2 linked regions of the Homo sapiens genome follow. The protein of the gene in region 1 interacts with the protein of each later gene in a pairwise test. Each region holds a gene or a part of one and is shown in the gene's direction. Other genes may lie near its edges. The genes, in order: TRIM14 and PPP6C.

What was found.
Region 2: the proteins of TRIM14 (region 1) and PPP6C interact in a two-hybrid assay, tested with the Homo sapiens proteins (one study listed by BioGRID).

The regions. Positions count from the first base shown.
Region 1 is NC_000009.12:98,094,631-98,103,317, reverse strand, and holds part of TRIM14 (tripartite motif-containing protein 14), read left to right. Parts: intron 1-3,153; coding exon 3,154-3,387; intron 3,388-8,288; coding exon 8,289-8,451; intron 8,452-8,687.
Region 2 is NC_000009.12:125,164,820-125,173,506, reverse strand, and holds part of PPP6C (serine/threonine-protein phosphatase 6 catalytic subunit), read left to right. Parts: intron 1-1,490; exon of another isoform or gene 1,491-1,559; coding exon of another isoform or gene 1,560-1,598; intron 1,599-2,326; coding exon 2,327-2,422; intron 2,423-8,687.

The DNA.
Region 1 (8,687 bases):
AAATTTGGATTATCTTGCTTATATTATTCTGCAGCTTGTTCTTTTTCACCTGTTTTTTTTTTTTCTGGAGAACTTTCCCTGCCAGGACATATAGGTCTACTGCATTGTTTTTTGTTGTTGTTGTTTGTTTTTGGAGATGGAGTCTCGTTCTGTTGCCCAGGCTGGAGTGCAGTGGCATGATCTCGGCTCACTGCAACCTCCGCCTCCTGGGTTCAAGCAATTCTTTGCCCCAGCCTCCTGAGTAGCTGGGATTACAGGCGCCCGCCACACGCCCGGCTAATTTTTTTGTATTTTTAGTAGAGACAGGGTTTCACCATCTTGGCCAGGCTGGTCTTGAACTCCTGACCTCATGATCTGCCCGCCTCAGCCTCCCAAAGTGCTGGGATTGCAGGCGTGAGCCACCGCGCCCAGCCTACTGCATTGTTTTTGTTGTTATATTTTCTTCTTCTTTTTTTTTATGGTGATAAAATATACATAACATAAAATTTGCCATTTTAACCATTTTAAAGTATTCAATTCAGTGGTATGAATTATATTCACAATGTTGTATAGCCATCACCTGTGTCTACTTCCAAAACTTTTTCATTATCCCAAACAGAAACTCTGAAACCATCAAGCAATTACTCCCCATTTCCCCTCTCCCAGCCCTTGGTAACGTCGACTCTACTTTCTGTCTCTATAAATTTGCCTGGTCTAGATGTTTCACATAAGCGGAATGATAAATTATTTGTCCTTTTTTGTCTGGCTTAATTCACTGGGGATGATGTCTTCGAGGTTCATCCATGTTTAGCATGCATCAGCACACTGCATTCTTTGTAATCGCTATAAATTATTTCATTGTACGAATGTAGGACAATTTATATAATGAACCGATATACATATCCCATATTGAAAATTGTGCCAAATATGTCATGGTTAACAACTGTCTGAGGCTGGTGCACAGGGGAATAAAATAATTTACCAAAACAGCATTGAGTTTAGAAAGGCAGATTTATTTAGAGAAAAGGGGGAGATACATTGAAAGGGAGCAATGGGTGAGACAGCAGAAAGAAGACTGTCTGCAAAGAGGCAGGAGCTGGAGGTGGAGTTTTCTAAGGTTGTGCTGCTTGAGCTGAATGCTTGCAGACAGGATGCCTGGGTGCAGGTGGACTGTGAGTTGAGTGCTTGTAACAGGATGCTTGAGTGCTAGTGAGCTGTTTGTGGTTGACCCTATTTCTCAGAACGTTCGCTCCCCACTGCTGTTGTTTCTGTTTCTGCTAGTGACGCCCATTTTTCAATGTTTTTTTCTTTTCTTTTTTTTTTTTTTTTTTGAGTCAAAGTCTTGCATTGTCGCCCAGGCTGGGGTGCAGCGGCCTGATCTCAGCTCACTGCAAGCTCCACCTCCCGGGCTCAAGTGATTCTCAAGCCTCAGCCTCCCAAGTAGCTGGGATTACAGACACCTACCACTACACTTGCCCAATTCTATTCTCTATGTGTAGAAGCTATATACTGAGAATCTTGGTACACAAATCTTCATGCACATGTGAAAGCATTTTCTAGGATATAAGTAAAGTAAGAGGAATTGCTGCATGAAAGAATAAATGTATTTAAAACTTTGAGGCCAGGTGCAGTGGCTCATGCCTGTAATCCAGCACTTTGGGGGACCAAGGCAGGCAGATCACCTGAGGTCAGGAGTTCAAGACCCAGCCTGGCCAACAGTGACTCCCTGTCTCTGCTAAAAATACAAAAATTAGCCAGGCATGGTGATGGCCACCTGCAGTCCCAGCTACACGGCTGAGGCAGGAGAATCGCTTGTACCCGGGAAGCGGAGGTTGCAGTGAGCCGAGATCTTGCCATTGCACTCCAGCCTAGGCGACAAGAGCAAAACTTCGTCTGAAAAAAAAAAAAAAATTGATAGCTATTGTCGTATTGTCCTCTAAAAGCGAAGTACCAATAGACCCTACCACCCACAGTTTATATAAATGCCCTACTTCACATACCCTTACAGACTGTATTTCAGTCTCTTAAAAGTCTTCCAATCTAATGATCAAAAACTATTTTCTGGGCTGGGCATGGTGTCTCATGCCTGTAATCTCAGCATTTTGGGAGGCTGAGGCAGGTGGATCACCTGAGGTCAGAAGTTCAAGACCAGCCTGACCAACATGGTGAAACTCCGTCTCTACTAAAAATACAAAATTACCTATGTGTGGTGGTGCGTGCTTGTAATCCCAGCTACTCAGGAGGCTGAGGCAGGAGAATCGCTTGAACCTGGGAGGCAGTGGTTGCTGTGAGCCAAGATCGCACCACTGCACTCAGCCTGGACAAGAGTGAAACTCCTTCTCAAAAAATAAAAATAAATAAATAAATAAATAAAAATTGTTTTGTATTTCATCTAATTGATTTATTCTTTGGGCTTTATGTACAGTGTTTTAGTTTAACTGGACCTTCTCTTTTGTTTGTTTTCCTTAACCTTTCATTGTGGAAAATCTCATATTATTTTAATTATTTTTACTTTTATATTTTTAGTACAAAAAATACAAAAATTTGTTCTAAAATGCCACTGTTACACCACACATACACATACATACATTTCCATATATAATTTGAGTTCTTTTAAAAGCTCTTTATTTTGTACTTTTGACCTCTTATCTATGCTTGAGCCACATGGTTTTAGATCCTGTAGATTTATTGTTTTGTTATCAGATAAGGCAGATAAGGCAGATAACCTCTTATCAGTTTTCTCTTTATTGATTTTTTTAAAGCAATTTTGGCTTTTCTTATGCTTATTCTCTCTCCTAATGATTTAATAATTTTTAATCAGCATGTTAAGATTTTGATTAGAATTTCATCAAATTTATAGACTAATTTAGAGACAAATAGTGACTTTATAGTAATCAACCCTCCCAGTCACGAATATGGTTTTGTATTAGGTATATTTCCACATATTTTGCTATTTTTTCTCCCATTTTCAAAAGGATCTTTATTTCTCCGTGCATTTTACGATCGGTGATGGGCTGGTGCTTAGGAAAGCTTTGGTTTTTATAAGTTGATCTTGTGTCTGACTGGCCACTTTACTGAACTCACATTTCAGACGTTATGATTTTTTTCATGTTGATTATTCTGGATTTCCTGGTTGGCAGACATGTCATCTGCAACTGGTTTTTCTGTTTTTAGGCTAATGCAGAGTCAAGTAAAACCTGGCTGAAGGGGAAATTCACTGAACTCAGATTACTACTTGACGAAGAGGAAGCGCTGGCCAAGAAATTCATTGATAAAAACACGCAGCTTACCCTCCAGGTGTACAGGGAACAAGCTGACTCTTGCAGAGAGCAACTTGACATCATGAATGATCTCTCCAACAGGGTCTGGAGTATCAGCCAGGAGCCCGATCCTGTCCAGAGGCTTCAGGTAATGCTGGGGTCACTGCTCTTACTGCTGCCACCTGCCACCCACACTTCATCTCAAGTATTGTGGCATTGAGCACAGTATTGACACACTAAGCAAGTACATGGACTATTGTCTTGTCACCATGTAGACTGTCTTGCCCCCACACAGGTGGTCAAGAGAATATACATTGTTAGGAAGATAATACACCTCTTGGGCTAATTAAATAATATTAACAGCCACCAATTTCAAAGGCCCCTGTGTCCTGAGCACTGTGTAGTTTAGCACTAATATTCACCAGAACTCTGCAAAGTGGGCTCACCCCATTTTATAAACAAGAAATTGAGGCTCAGTGAAGTGACTCACCTGGTCTCACACAGCAGGTAGGTAGCAGAGCTGGTATCAGGTCTGGCTGTCTGTCTAGGTCTGTCTGACTCTAAACCCACAAGGGACCCTGCCTGGCCCTCTGACTGTACAGTCTTTTTTTTTTTTTTTTTTTTTTGAGATGGAGTTTCTCTCTTGTTGCCCAGGCCGGAGTACAGTGGTGCGATCTCAGCTCACCACAACCTCTGCCTCCTGGGTTCAAGCAGTTCTCCTGGCTCAGCCTCCTGAGTAGCTGGGATTACAGGCATGTGCCACCATGCGTGGCTAATTTTGTATTTTTAGTAGAGACAGGGTTTCTCCACGTTGGTCAGGCTGGTCTTGAACTCCTGACCTCAGGTGATCCGCCCACCTCAGCCTCCCAAAGTGCTGGGATTATAGGTGTGAGCCACCGCAATCAGCCTGCCTTTATAGTCTTAAATTGAGACACCCCACCTGAAAAGGCAGGTGTCCTTGCAGCTACTGAGCACATTTCAAAGGCTGAGTCACAGCTGGCTCAATGGTACTCCTTGGCCACTGGGCTTTGTTGAGGAAGAGTCTAAGAAATAGCCCCTGTGGCAGATCACTTGAGGCCAGAAGTTTGAGACCAGCCTGACCAACATGGCAAAACCACCTCTCTACTAAAAATACAAATATCAGCCAGGCGTGATGGCGTGCACCTGTGAGGCTGAGGTGGGAGAATCACTTGAATCGGGGAGGCAAAGATTGCAGTGAGTAACGAGATCATGCCACTGCACTCCAGGCCGGGTAACAGAGTGAGACTCTGTCTCAAAAAAAAGAAAAGAACTAGCCCCAGGGATAGTCATTGCTACATTTAGAGAAAGCATGTTGTTGAGGATGGTGTTCCTGTCTACTTTTTTCTTTTTTTTTGAGACGGAGTCTTGCTCTGTCGCCCAGGCTGGAGTGCAGTGGTGTGATCTCGGCTTACAGCAAGCTCCACCTCCCACCATTCTCCTGCCTCAGCCTCCCGAGTAGCTGGGACTACAGGCGCCCCCCACCACGCCCAGCTAATTTTTTGTATTTTTTAGTAGAGATGGGGTTTCACCATGTTAGCCAGGATGGTCTCCATCTCCTGACCTCGTGATCCGCCCCCCTCGGCCCCTCAAAGTGCTGGGATTACAGGCGTGAGCCACCGCACCCGGCCGATGGTGTTCCTGTCTTTAGGGAACCGTGGAAGAAACTGTTGTCTGGTGTCAATATCCCTGTGCAGTCACTTCTGCACTAGAATTGCTTTTCCACTAATAGAGCTCCTCCTGTTTCCTTCTTTGCCTTGGGAAGTTCAGAGCCAAATCTGCTTTGACTAACCAGACTAAGGCTTCATGGCAAACACTTTGTGTCTAATTTTCTCTTAGCTTCATTTTTCTCGCTATAAAGAAAAATCTTGCCTTATTAGAGGACCTTCACAAGACACTTTAAAGGCTGTGGGACAAGGCAGGGTACAACTAAAAGTGGCACCAACTCTAACCACAGATTAGTATGGGCTCTGGCTGGAAAATAAGACAGACAAATAAGCCAGTCAACACAAAACCCGCCAAGCCAGTCTCCAGCTGGGGATTTCCACTCTTGTGTCTTTATGTGGCCTCAGTCGGTTCAGCCTGTGTCTCATTGTCAGCTGTTTGAGCCAAATTCTGGATGAAGTGTTTTCCTAGGCATAATGGGTGTTGTGCTTTAAGAGAGGCAAGATGCACAAAGTGTTACATGTAATTGTCTCTTTTTAAATAATGGTCGTTTTTAAGGCTATGGAATACAAAGGAATCCTTCCATGGAGAAGCATGCTATTCTCACATCAGAAAACGGTTTCAGGGCTTTGTCATCTTTTTTTTTCAAATTCTCTTGGGCCACAGCTAATGATTTTAATCATTCACCGTTCCCACCTTCTATGTGTTCATTCGTTTATTCATCAATATGTACTGAGCCAGGTCACTTGCTGGACATTAGGAGCTCACAGTTGGGTGGGGGACTTGCTCAGAAACAGTTATTTACAATACAGCTTAAACAATTTTGTAAATATGAAGCTAGCAAAATTATGTCCAAGAAATGTCTGACACTCTCTGGCTGGGAGAAGGATGCAGTCTGGGAAGACTTCTAGGAAGAGGTGATGGTAGGGTTGGGTGCTGGACAATGAGTAGGAGCACACTGTATATAGAGAGGACGCAGAGAGGACAGACAGGAACTGTGTACATGTGAGAGCTTGACAGGCTGGGGAACCAGCTGGGGTGCAGCCTGACTTGAGGAGAGGTGAGGGTATAAGGGTGGGGGGATTGAGAGACACAGCTGGATCCATAGGCCATAGTTAGTTCATGAAGGCCTTATGTGCCATGGAGTTCAGACTTTGTCCTGTAATGAGATAGGAGACAGGAATGTTTGTTTGTTTGTTTTTGAGACAGGGTCTCACTCTATTGCCCAGGCTAGAATGCAGTGGCTCAATCTCAGCTTACTGCAACCTTTGCCTCCCAGGTTCAAGGGATTCTCCTGCCTCAGCCCCTGGAAGAGCTGAGACGACAAGCACGTGCCACCATGCCCAGCTAATTTTTGTATTTTTAGTAGAGACAGTGTTTCACCATGTTGGCCAGGCTGGTCTCAAACTCTTGACCTCAAGTGATCTGCCCACCTTGGCCTCCCAAAGAGCTGGGAGGTGTGAGCCACTGCACCCAGCCCAGGGGAGTGTTTTGAACTGAGGGATGAAAGCATTCACATGGTCAGATTAGTGCTTTAGAAAAGTCACTTTAGAGATAGAGTGGAAGATGGACAGAGGAGGCCAGGATGGGAGGCTGGAAGAGAACTTGGGAGGAGGCCACAATGTCCAGGAGAGAGATGATGGTGGCCTGGACCAAGACAGGGGCAGTGGGGATGGGGAGAAACAGGCAGGTCAAGAGATGCCACAGGAATGGAGATTGGAATTGGAGAATGGGTAGGAGGAATCCCCAGATGATGCCTGGGTTTCTGGCCTGAGAGATGAAGGGCTGGGATTTCTGTTCTCTGAGTCTGCAAAGGCAAAAAAGTGGCTGTGCTCGGTTTCATGCATTGATTTATTCCATCATACATATGTTTTGAGAACCTGTGTGTCAGGTCTGGTGCTAGCTGCTGGAGTTTGGGGTTACCAGGTGGTGCCATGTGTCCTCTATCGACCCCTCATCCTACCCTACTCATCTGCCCTCTGAGCCCCCTCTCGCCTCCCCGGAGCTGCTCCCTGCCCACCCTGGACTTCCTGCTAGTGCTTGGTCTCCCCTGGCCAGCTCCATTCCAGCGCTCTGGGTGTGACCTTAGGCCTGGTTCCCCACCAAAATGAGGTTGGACTCTATAGACTCCTGGCCTCCTAGGCTGAATGGGGCTTGCAGGCCATCTCACAGCCCCCTCCCAATGTACAGCATGCTGCCAGGTGGGATCTGCCCCTGCCCAACAGCCAAGTGCTAGGCCACCCTCCCTCCCTCCTGAGGCCCTCATCTGTCCACCCCTTCTCGGGTGGGCAGCACTGCCACTGCCAGCCAAGCCTGATCACCTGAGGCAGTCATCTTCCTTCCAACTCCTGGCCAGGACAGAGCTTCAGAAAATGCAGCCATGGTTCTTACCTGCAAACATGAGAATCCACTGGAACTGTTTTAAGCAAGAAAGGAGTTTATGGAAGAGTATGAGATAGCCCATAGGATCTCCAGGAGGGCCAGAGAGTCGGGATGGAAGATGGGCAGCAGGAATGAAGTCCAGACTCCAGCAGGGGTTGGTGCCAGTATAGGCCCCACGGCACCCCTGCTGGGCAAGACATCACCACTCACACCACTGACCAGAGCCCCCACCACTGCTGTCCCTCAGTGCCACATGCCACCATCACTACCTTCACCGTCATTTCCAAATCCACGCTTTGGCTTGGAGGCGTCTGGTCACACTCCTGCAGCACAGGTGCAAAGGGAGCTGGGAGAGGGGGTTTTCTAGCTTCTCCTTAGTGAAGCCACATACCACAGGAAAGTATTGAAGAGGGGCTGTCCAGGTGCAAAACAGGACACATGTCCCCTGCGGTGGCCACACCCCCTCAGTCAGCACTGCAGCTGAACCTTGCTGGCCTTTGGCGTCCTTCTTAGAACATGGTTTCCTGCTCCACCTTTGAATAAGCTCCAGGTGCTCCTTCCCCAGGGAGACTGACCTCTCACCCTTTTTGTACCCAAGGCAGACCCGTGGCGCAGTGTGTGTGAGGCTGAAGCCTCTCTGGGAAGGGCCCCGTGTCAGCCTGACCCTGCCTTCTGCATGCATAGCTGGCACAGAGTAGGTTTCAATGAACACGTAAGGAAGGAAGGAAAGGAGGAAGGATGGAGAGGGAGGAATCCCCAGTGCCAGCACTGAAAAACCGCACCTCCGCATGGCTCCCACCTCAGGGATGCCGTATGGTCTCTCCAGGGCTCTGCTCCTGCAGGCATGGCCTGGGCTGACCATAGGTGCCAGGCCAACGTGGAGCCTGGGCATGCTGGTGTGGGTTTGTTCCTGGGTGCAGCACAGGAGGCTGGGATGCTGCCTGCATCTCCCAGAGCCACCCTCACCCCCGTGTGCCCACACAGGCATACACGGCCACCGAGCAGGAGATGCAGCAGCAGATGAGCCTCGGGGAGCTGTGCCATCCCGTGCCCCTCTCCTTTGAGCCCGTCAAGAGCTTCTTTAAGGGCCTCGTGGAAGCCGTGGAGAGTACATTACAGACGCCATTGGACATTCGCCTTAAGGAAAGTAAGTCGCCGAGTGACCAACTTTGTGTCCTTAACTCCCCTAGTGTCCTTTAGCCCAGAGACGAATGCAAAGATCATCTCCCTACATCCTGTCTCTCCCACACTGAGGCCCTTGGCTGGGCGGTCAGGGGCTCCTGGGCCTGGTGCCCAACCCACCCTCACCACTTCACCTCCAACCCTTCCTGAGACTGAGACCTGCCCTTCTCCAGTCACACTGCCCTGCTTCTGCCCCTCAGA
Region 2 (8,687 bases), about 27 Mb from region 1:
TCCTGGGTTCAAGCGATTCTCTTGCCTCATCCTCCCGAGTAGCTGGGATTACAGCTGTGCACCCCACGCCTGGCTACTTTTTTTTTTTTTTTTTTTTTTTTTGAGAGGGAGTCTCTCTGCTGCCCAGGCTGGAGTGCAATGGGTGCAATCTCGGCTCACTGCAACCTTTGCCTCCCAGATTCAAGTGATTCTCCTGCCTCAGCCTCAGCTGAGGATTACAGGCACCTGCCACCACGCCCAGCTAATTTTTGTATTTTTAATAGAGACGGGGTTTCACTACGTTGGCCAGGCTGGTCCTGAACTCCTGACCTTGTGATCCACCCACCTCAGCCTCCCAAAGTTCTGGGATTACAGGCGTGATTCACCATGCCCAGCCTAATTTTTATATTTAGTAGAGATAGGGGGTTTTGCCATGTTGGTCAGGCTGGTCTTGAACTCCTGACCTCAAATGATCCACCCACTTTGGCCTCCCAAAATGCTGGGATTACAGGCGAGAGCCGCCGTGCCCAGCTGGCTCCTCAGTTTTAGATTTGAATTTTATAATTAATTATAGTTAGCCTTTTTATTTCAAAATAACCCAGTTTTCCCCAGTGGTAACATTTTGTAGAACTATAGTGTAATGCCACAACCAATACAACATCAGCCAACATTGACACTGATACAACTCATGATCTTTAGGTACAACCCAAGATCATCACCTCATGATGTTCAGATTTCTTCAGTTTTACTTGTGTTTGTGTGTGTGTGTGTGTGTTTGTGTGTGTGTGTGTGTGTGTGTGTGTGTGTTTGTGTGTATTCAGTTCTTTGCAGTTTTATTGGGTAAGGGCTCATGTATCCAACTCTATAGTCAAAATACAGAACAGGTCCATCATCACAAGAATTCCTCATGTTGCCCTTTTATAGCCACACCCACTTCCTTCCTGCAACTGCTGGACCCCTGACAACAACTAATCCGTTCTCCATTTCTTTAATTTTGTCATTTCAAGAATGTGTAAACACGGCCGAGTGCAGTGGCTCAATGCCTGTAATCCCACCACTTTGGGAGGCCGAAGCGGGCAGATCACCTGAGGTTGGGAGTTTGAGACCAGCCTGACCAACATGGTGAAACTACTAAGAATACAAAAATTAGCTGGGCATGATGGTGTGTGCCTGTAATCCCAGGTACTTGTGAGACTGAGGCAAGGGAATCACTTGAACTGGGAGGCAGTTTGCAGTGAACTGAAATTGTGCTACTGGACTCCAGCCTGGGCAACAGACCAAGACTCTGTCTCAAAAAAAAAGGGAAAAAAAGAAGGTTATATAAATGGAATTATACAGTATATAACCTTTTGGGACAGTTTTCTGTTGTTTCATTTTTTTCACTCAACATAAATGCCTTGAGATGAATCCAGGTTGTTGTGTGGCAGTATTCGTTTCTTTTTATTGCTGAGTAGTATTACATGGTGTGGATGTACCAAAATGTGTTTAACCATTCACTCATTGAAGGATATCTGATTTGTTTTTAGTTTTGGGCTATGATGCATTAGGCTTCTGCGAGTATTTATATACAGATTTTGAACATGTTTTTATTGCCAAGACTACAGTTGCTGGGTCAAATGGTAAGTGTGTGGTTTGCAATTTATTTTTTAAATTACCAGATAAAAATCTTTTACTGGCTGGGCACGGTGGCTGACGCCTGTAATCCCAGCACTTTGGGAGGCTGAGGTGGGTGGATCACCTGAGGTCAGGAGTTCAAGACCAGCCTGGCCAACATGGTAAAACCCTGTGTCTACTAAAAATACAAAAATTAGCCGGGTGTGGTGGCACATGCCTGTAACCCCAGCTACTTGGGAGGCTGAGGCAGGAAAATTGCTTGAATCTGGGAGATGGAGGTAGAAGTGAGCCGAGATCGTGTCACTGCATTTCAGCCTGGGAGACAGAGTGAGACTCCGTTTAAAAAAAAAAAAAACAAAAAAACCCAAAAACCTTTTACTGTTAAAATTATTTCTTCATATATATATATATATATATATATATATATATATATATGTGTGTGTGTGTGTGTGTATATGTGTGTGTGTGTTTGGTGAAAAACATCATTTTACAGTTCTTGTAAAGCTGTCTGTCTCCTAGAACCTTAGTGTCTCTGTAGGTAGTTTGCATTGCATTAAGAATTCTGTGTGACAGCTGACAGAAATCCAACCCCCGAATTATCACAGGGTACTTTCCTATCAAAAAGTATACTTGGGTTTTGTAAGTATTAGACCTGGTATTTTTCTTTTTTGGTATTTTATCTTTAGTTTTAATGTTGTAGTAAATGTTTACCTTTTATTTTCTCTTTTTATAGCGGCTATGTGACTACGTTTGTGACCTCCTCTTAGAAGAGTCAAATGTTCAGCCAGTATCAACACCAGTAACAGTGTGTGGAGATATCCATGGACAGGTAAAATTTCATGAGCAGATTTTTAAGTTTTGTACTGTCCATGATCCATGTGTGTTTTCACATGTGCTGCAAAATTAAAACAACAACAACATCAACAAACACAACTGGTGGTAAGCTAGGTTGCCTCAGTCTCTGTGACACAAATGATTCCTGGTTTACATTTTTGGTGAATAAAAGCAGTGGTCAAATTAGTGATGGAATTTGTTGATAATTACATTTGTGAAGTGAATAATGCAGCATTAGTTTTCTGTGGAATGGTGGGGTTGGGGGTAGGTAGAAGATATAAAGTACAAACACATACTGCTCATAATAACTATGATTAACAGGAGATGTTTTGGTGTTAGGCACTTTTTTCATTCAGTTCATTTCTGTTCTCCTGTCATATATTGTTGAAAATTTATCATTTCTTTAGTGGGAATGAGAATAGCAAAGGTACAGAAAAATAAAATTGTTGGTCCATGATGTCACAGCAAATCACTGATGAATGAGCTAGAAAATATTTAGCTCAATTTTTCATCTGCTGGGTGTTTGTAAGAATTTCAAAGCAGTGCCGGGCGTGGTGGCTCACACCTGTAGTCCCAGCACTTTGGGTGGCTGAGGCGGGTGGATCGTGAGGTCAGGAGTTTGAGACCAGCCTGACCAACATGGTGAAACCCCGTCTCTACTGAAAATACAAAAAAATTAGCTGGGCATGGTGGTGCGTGCCTGTAATCCCAGCTACTCAGGAGGCTGAGGCAGGAGAATCTCTTGAACCCGGGAGGTGAAGGTTGCAGTGAGCCGAGACCGCACCACTGCACTCCAGCCTGGGCAACAGAGCAAGACTCTGTCTAAAAAAAAAAAAAAGAATTTCAAAGCAGTAACAGGAGGGGCATACCTCATATTTAGATTCTGTTGTCAGTGTTTAGTCTCATGTATATTTGTAGAATTTTTTCACTGGGAAATGAAAGCTGAACAGATTACTCATAGAGTGCTATATGCATACAGTGTAGTTGGGGCCATAAGACTTAATAATACATTGCAAACAATGTAGTCTTTAAAGGATGCCAACAGGACTTACTGTCACCTGTGCAATTTCCCTGCTTTAAATATGACTGTGTAAATGAGCAGAAATGTGTGTAAATTGACTCTGATTAGGGGCTGCTCCATGAGTAAAGTCTTGTTTTGGCTACTTACTTACAGGCTGATTTTCTTTTGGTTTTTCAAGGTGTTTTCTGGATTTTTTAGATTATAAAAAAATCTGACACTTGCATGTCATCACCTCCTAGATGGAGGTCCCATTATGTCATCTTTGATTGTTAAAATTACAGTTCTTTAGAGTAGACTTTAGGAATTGATTTCCTAAAATTTCCATGTAACTTCTCTCTCAAACATTTGTATTTTGCTAACATAAAGGATATTAATATAAGCAGTGTCTTAAGACATTCCTGAAAACTGGAATAAACCAAGTCATGTTTTCCCCCAGTGTAGTGTAGAAGTTTCTATGTAACTTCTCTCTCAAAGTAAACATTTGTATTTTGCTAACATAAAGGATATTAATATAAGCAGTGTCTTAACACATTCCTGAAAACTGGAATAAACCAAGTCATGTTTTCCCCCAGTGTAGTGTTTCCCCCAGTTGTAGACTTTTTAAGATGTGAAGTACAGCCATGATCAAAGGTCAGAAAGTTAGAGACCAACCTCGAACTACTAAAATTGGAAGCATAAAATTGAACTTTTGTATTATATATACCTTCAGTCAAATGTGCAGTTCTTGCTAACATATATCTTGTGTTTTGAGGTTAACAAAGTACTTTTTCACATATTCTGTGTCAGTTTTTTCCCAAAGTCCTGTGAGATAGGATTATTTTGTAGACAATGAAAGGGAGACTGAAAGATTGAAGAGAAATAGCCCAAACTCACACACAGCTACTACAGGGCAGATTGAGATTTGAAACTAATTTGGGTTTCTTTTGTACATGTTATTTTAAGACCACCACCAAACCGTGAACAATTGTTTATGTTGTATGTGTTCCTTAAAAAACAATTGTTCCAGGTGCAGTGGCTCACGCCTGTAATCCCAGCACTTTGGGAGGCTGAGGCAGGCAGATCAGAAGGTCAGGAGTTCAAGACCAGCCTAGCCAACATGGTGAAACCCTGTCTCTACGAAAAATACAAAAATTAGCCAGGTGTGGTGGTGCGTGCCTGTAATCCCAGCTACTTGGGAGGCTGAGGCAGGAGAATCGCTAGAACCCGGGAGGCAGAGGTTGCAGTGAACCGAGATCATGCATTGCACCCCAGCCTGGGCAATAGAGTGAGACTCTGTCTCGAAAAAATAAAAAATAAAAAATAAGCCGGGTGTGGTGGCTCATGCCTGTAATCCCAGCACTTTGGGAGGCTGAGGTGGGTGGATCACGAGGGCAAGAGATCGAGACCATCCTGGCAAATATGGTGAAACCCCGTCTCTACTAAAAATACAAAAATTAGCCAGGTGTGGTGACAGGCGCCTGTAATCCCAGCTCCTTAGGAGGCTGAGGCAGGAGAATTGCTTGAACCTGGGAGACGGAGGTTGTGGTGAGCCGAGATCGCGCCATTGCACTCCAGCCTGGGCAACAAGAGCGAAACTCCGTCTCAAAAAAATGAAAAACAGAAGATTGCTAATCAGAAACATGGGATTTGAGCCTCTAAATAGCTATTGACTGATTAAATACAATGTAAAATGTATCCTTTGGGACTTATCTTCCTCTGGGGCCTGTTCTGGAATTGCAGGATTGGGTTATGAGTATGAATAAACATGTTAGCAAGCATGTTGTGCTGAGAAGTATTGAAGCTGTGTAATATAGTGAGGAGTTATAGATTTCAGTGTCAGATACAACTTGGTTTAAATCCTGGCTTGGCTATATATTAGTTGTTTAAGAAGCCATTTCAGCTAGCTCACAAATTCGTTAAGTGTGGCCTGTGGACCCTTGGGTCTCTAAGGTGGTACAGAGGCAATGGAGGGTAAAACTGCTCGTGCCTTAGCATGAACCAAGGGAATGACACTAGAATATACTGATTATCATTGAGTTCTTCACCAACATGCCTGCACAGTAAAATAAAATGCCAGTTTCACTTAACTCTCAATCCTTTAGAATATCCATTATTTGAAAAGTCTGGCTGGGCATGATGGCTCATGCCTATAATCCCAGCACTTTGGGAGGCTGAGGTGGGAGGATCGCTTGAAGCCATGGGTTCAAGACCAGCCTGGGCAACCAAATGATACCCCCCCCCCCCCCCCCCATCTCAAACTCCTGACCTCAGGTGATCCACCTGCCTTGGCCTCCCAGAGTGCTGGGATTACAGGCGTGAGCCACTGCGTCCGGCCTGAGACTCCCCATCTCTAAAAAAAAAAAATTTTTTTTTTTTGAGACAGAGTTTCTCTCTTGTTATCCAGGCTGGAGTGCAATGGCACGATCCTGGCTCACTGCAACCTCTGCCTCCCAGGTTCAAGCGATTCTCCTGCCTCAGCCTCCTGAGTAGCTGAGATTACAGGCATGTGCCACCACGCCTGACTAACTTTTTGTATTTTTAGTTGAGATGGGGTTTTTCCATGTTGCTGAGGCTGGTCTTGAACCCCTGACCTCATGTGATCCTCCTGTCTCCTGTCTCGGCCTCCCAAAGTGCTGGGATTACAGGCGTGAGTCACCATGCCCGGCCTTTTTTTTATTTCTTTTTTTTTTTTTTTTTTTTGGACAGGGTCTCGCTCTGTCACCCAAGCTGGAGTGCAGTGGTGTGATCTCAGTTCATTGCAGCCTCTGCCTCCCGGGTTCAAGTGATTCTTGTGCCTCAGCATCCCGAGTAGCTGGGACTACAGGCACGCACCACCACGCCTGGCTGATTTTTGTATTTTTAGTAGGGATGGGATTTTGCCCTGTTGGCCAGGCTGGTCTCGAACTCCTGGCCTCTTGTGATCCACCTGCCTCAGCCTCCCAGAGTGCTGGGACTACAGGTGTGAGCCGCTGCACCTGGCCCCCATCTCTAAAAATATTAAAAAGAAAAAAATTAGCCAGGCTTGGTGGTGTGAGTCTGTAAGTCCTAGCTCCTCAAGAGGCTAAGGTGGAAGCATTGCTTGAGCCCAGGAGTTTGAGGCTATAGTCAGCTATTATTGTGCCACTGCACTCCAGCCTGGGCAGCAGAGTGAGACCCCATCTAAAAAGAAAAAGAAAAAAGTCTGTGTGATGAAATGGGAAGTATGCATAAAGCATATCTACTGCATGCTGAAGAAAGATAGTTTACTCAAGGAAAAGTAGTTGTGGGTTGGGCACGGTGGCTCACACCTGTAATCCCAGCACCAGATCACCTGAGGTCGGGAGTTCAAGATCAGCCTGGCCAACATGGCAAAACCCCATCTTTACTAAAAAATATAAAAAATTGCCAGGTGTGGTGGTGGGTGCCTGTAATCCCAGCTACTCAGGGACTAAGGCAGGGAAAATTACTTGAACCTGGGAGGCGGATGTTGCAGTAAGCTGAGATCTCACCATTGCACTCCAGCCTGGGTGACAGAGTGAGACTCTGCTAAAAAAAAAAAAAAAAAGAAAAAGAAAAATACTTGTGAAATTCTTTGAGTCATGAGTTAAAATAACTGCTTTTTTATGGAACACTATTTTTACTTGAGAATGACTGACAAACTGTGATTATTTAGACTTGGGTATTTGGCAACTATATTTGCAAAAGTGAAGGAAGTGGGCCAGTCACTTCAAGGAGAACAATTGACAGTATTTGTTGCCGATGACAAAATTTGAATTTACTAATGAAAAATTGGAATTTTGGAAAATCTGAGTCCACCACTATGGGGCTAACAGTTTCCGACACTTAAAAGACTTTCCTGAGATGAAATGAGCAGTGATATTAACAAATATGGTTTTTTGATGATATAAAATGCAATGTCATTTTCATTTTTCAAATTACTAGTTTACCATTTACTCAAAGTGTAAGATAACAAATGTAACAGGGTATGAAAGATGACTATTATAGGCCAGGCCTGGTGACTCACACCTGCAATCCCAGCACTTTGGGAGGCCGTGGCAAGCGGATCGCTTGAGCCCAGGAGTTTGAGACCAGCCTGAGCAACATGGTGAAACCCTGTCTCTACTAAAAATACAAAAATTAGCCAGGTGTGGAGGTACGTGCCTGTAATCTCGGCTACTTAGGTGGCTGAGGCATGAGAATTGCTTGAACCTGGGAGGTGGAGGTTGCACTGAGCTGAGAATGTGCCACTGTACTCCAGCCTGGACAACAGGGAGAGATCCTGTCTCCAAAAAAAAAAAAAAAAAAGCAAAAGATTACTGTTATGGTTTCAGATTTCATATTGCGATTAACTTTTAAGTGTCATAAACTGCCACTTGTCAAATTTTGGTACAGTATTTAAAGAGTATGCACAGTTACCTGAAAATGTTATTAAAATACTCCTTCCTTTTGTAACTGCATATCTTTGTGAAGCTGGATTTTCTTCATCTGCTTTACTTAGTATATTCCCAACAGACTGAGTGCAGAGGCAAGTTCTAAGACTAGCCATGTTCTATTTAGCCAGACATTGAAGAGATTTGTGAAAATGTAAAACAATGTGAATTCTCCTCTCACTAAACAATTTTTTTGTTTTGGAAAAGTTAATTTTTCATTAAAATGTGTTTGTGATACTTTTTGATGGGTATGTTATTGATTTGTTTTTTTGAGATGGAATTTCACTCTTGTCACCCAGACTGCAGTGCAATGGTGTGATCTCAGCTCACTGCAACCTCTGCCTCCCGGGTTCAAGCGATTCTTCTGCCTCAGCCTCCCAAGTAGCTGGGATTACAGGTGTGAGTCACCGTGCCTGGCCTATGTTATTAATTTTTAAAAATTCATTTAAATATTTAAAACTTCTGAGTTTTAATCTCTAATATGGTAAATATTGATTTGTAAAACTTACATAAAAGATTTTCAGGACCTCTGGTTTTTAAGATCACAAATGAATCCTGAAACCAAAAAGTTTGAGAACTACTGGGCAGACTGGATGTTTCCTTGCCTCTGATAAAAAAAAAAATTCCACTTCCCAGCCGGGCGCGGTGGCTCACGCCTGTAATCCCAGCACTGTGGGAGGCCGAGGCGGGCGGATCACGAGGTCAAGAGATCAAGACCATCCTGGCCAATGTGGTGAAACCCCGTCTCTACTAAAAATACAAAAATTAGCTGGGCATGGTGGCACATGACTGTAGTCCCAGCTACTCGGGAGGCTGAGGCAGGAGAATGACGTGAACCTGGGAGGTGGAGG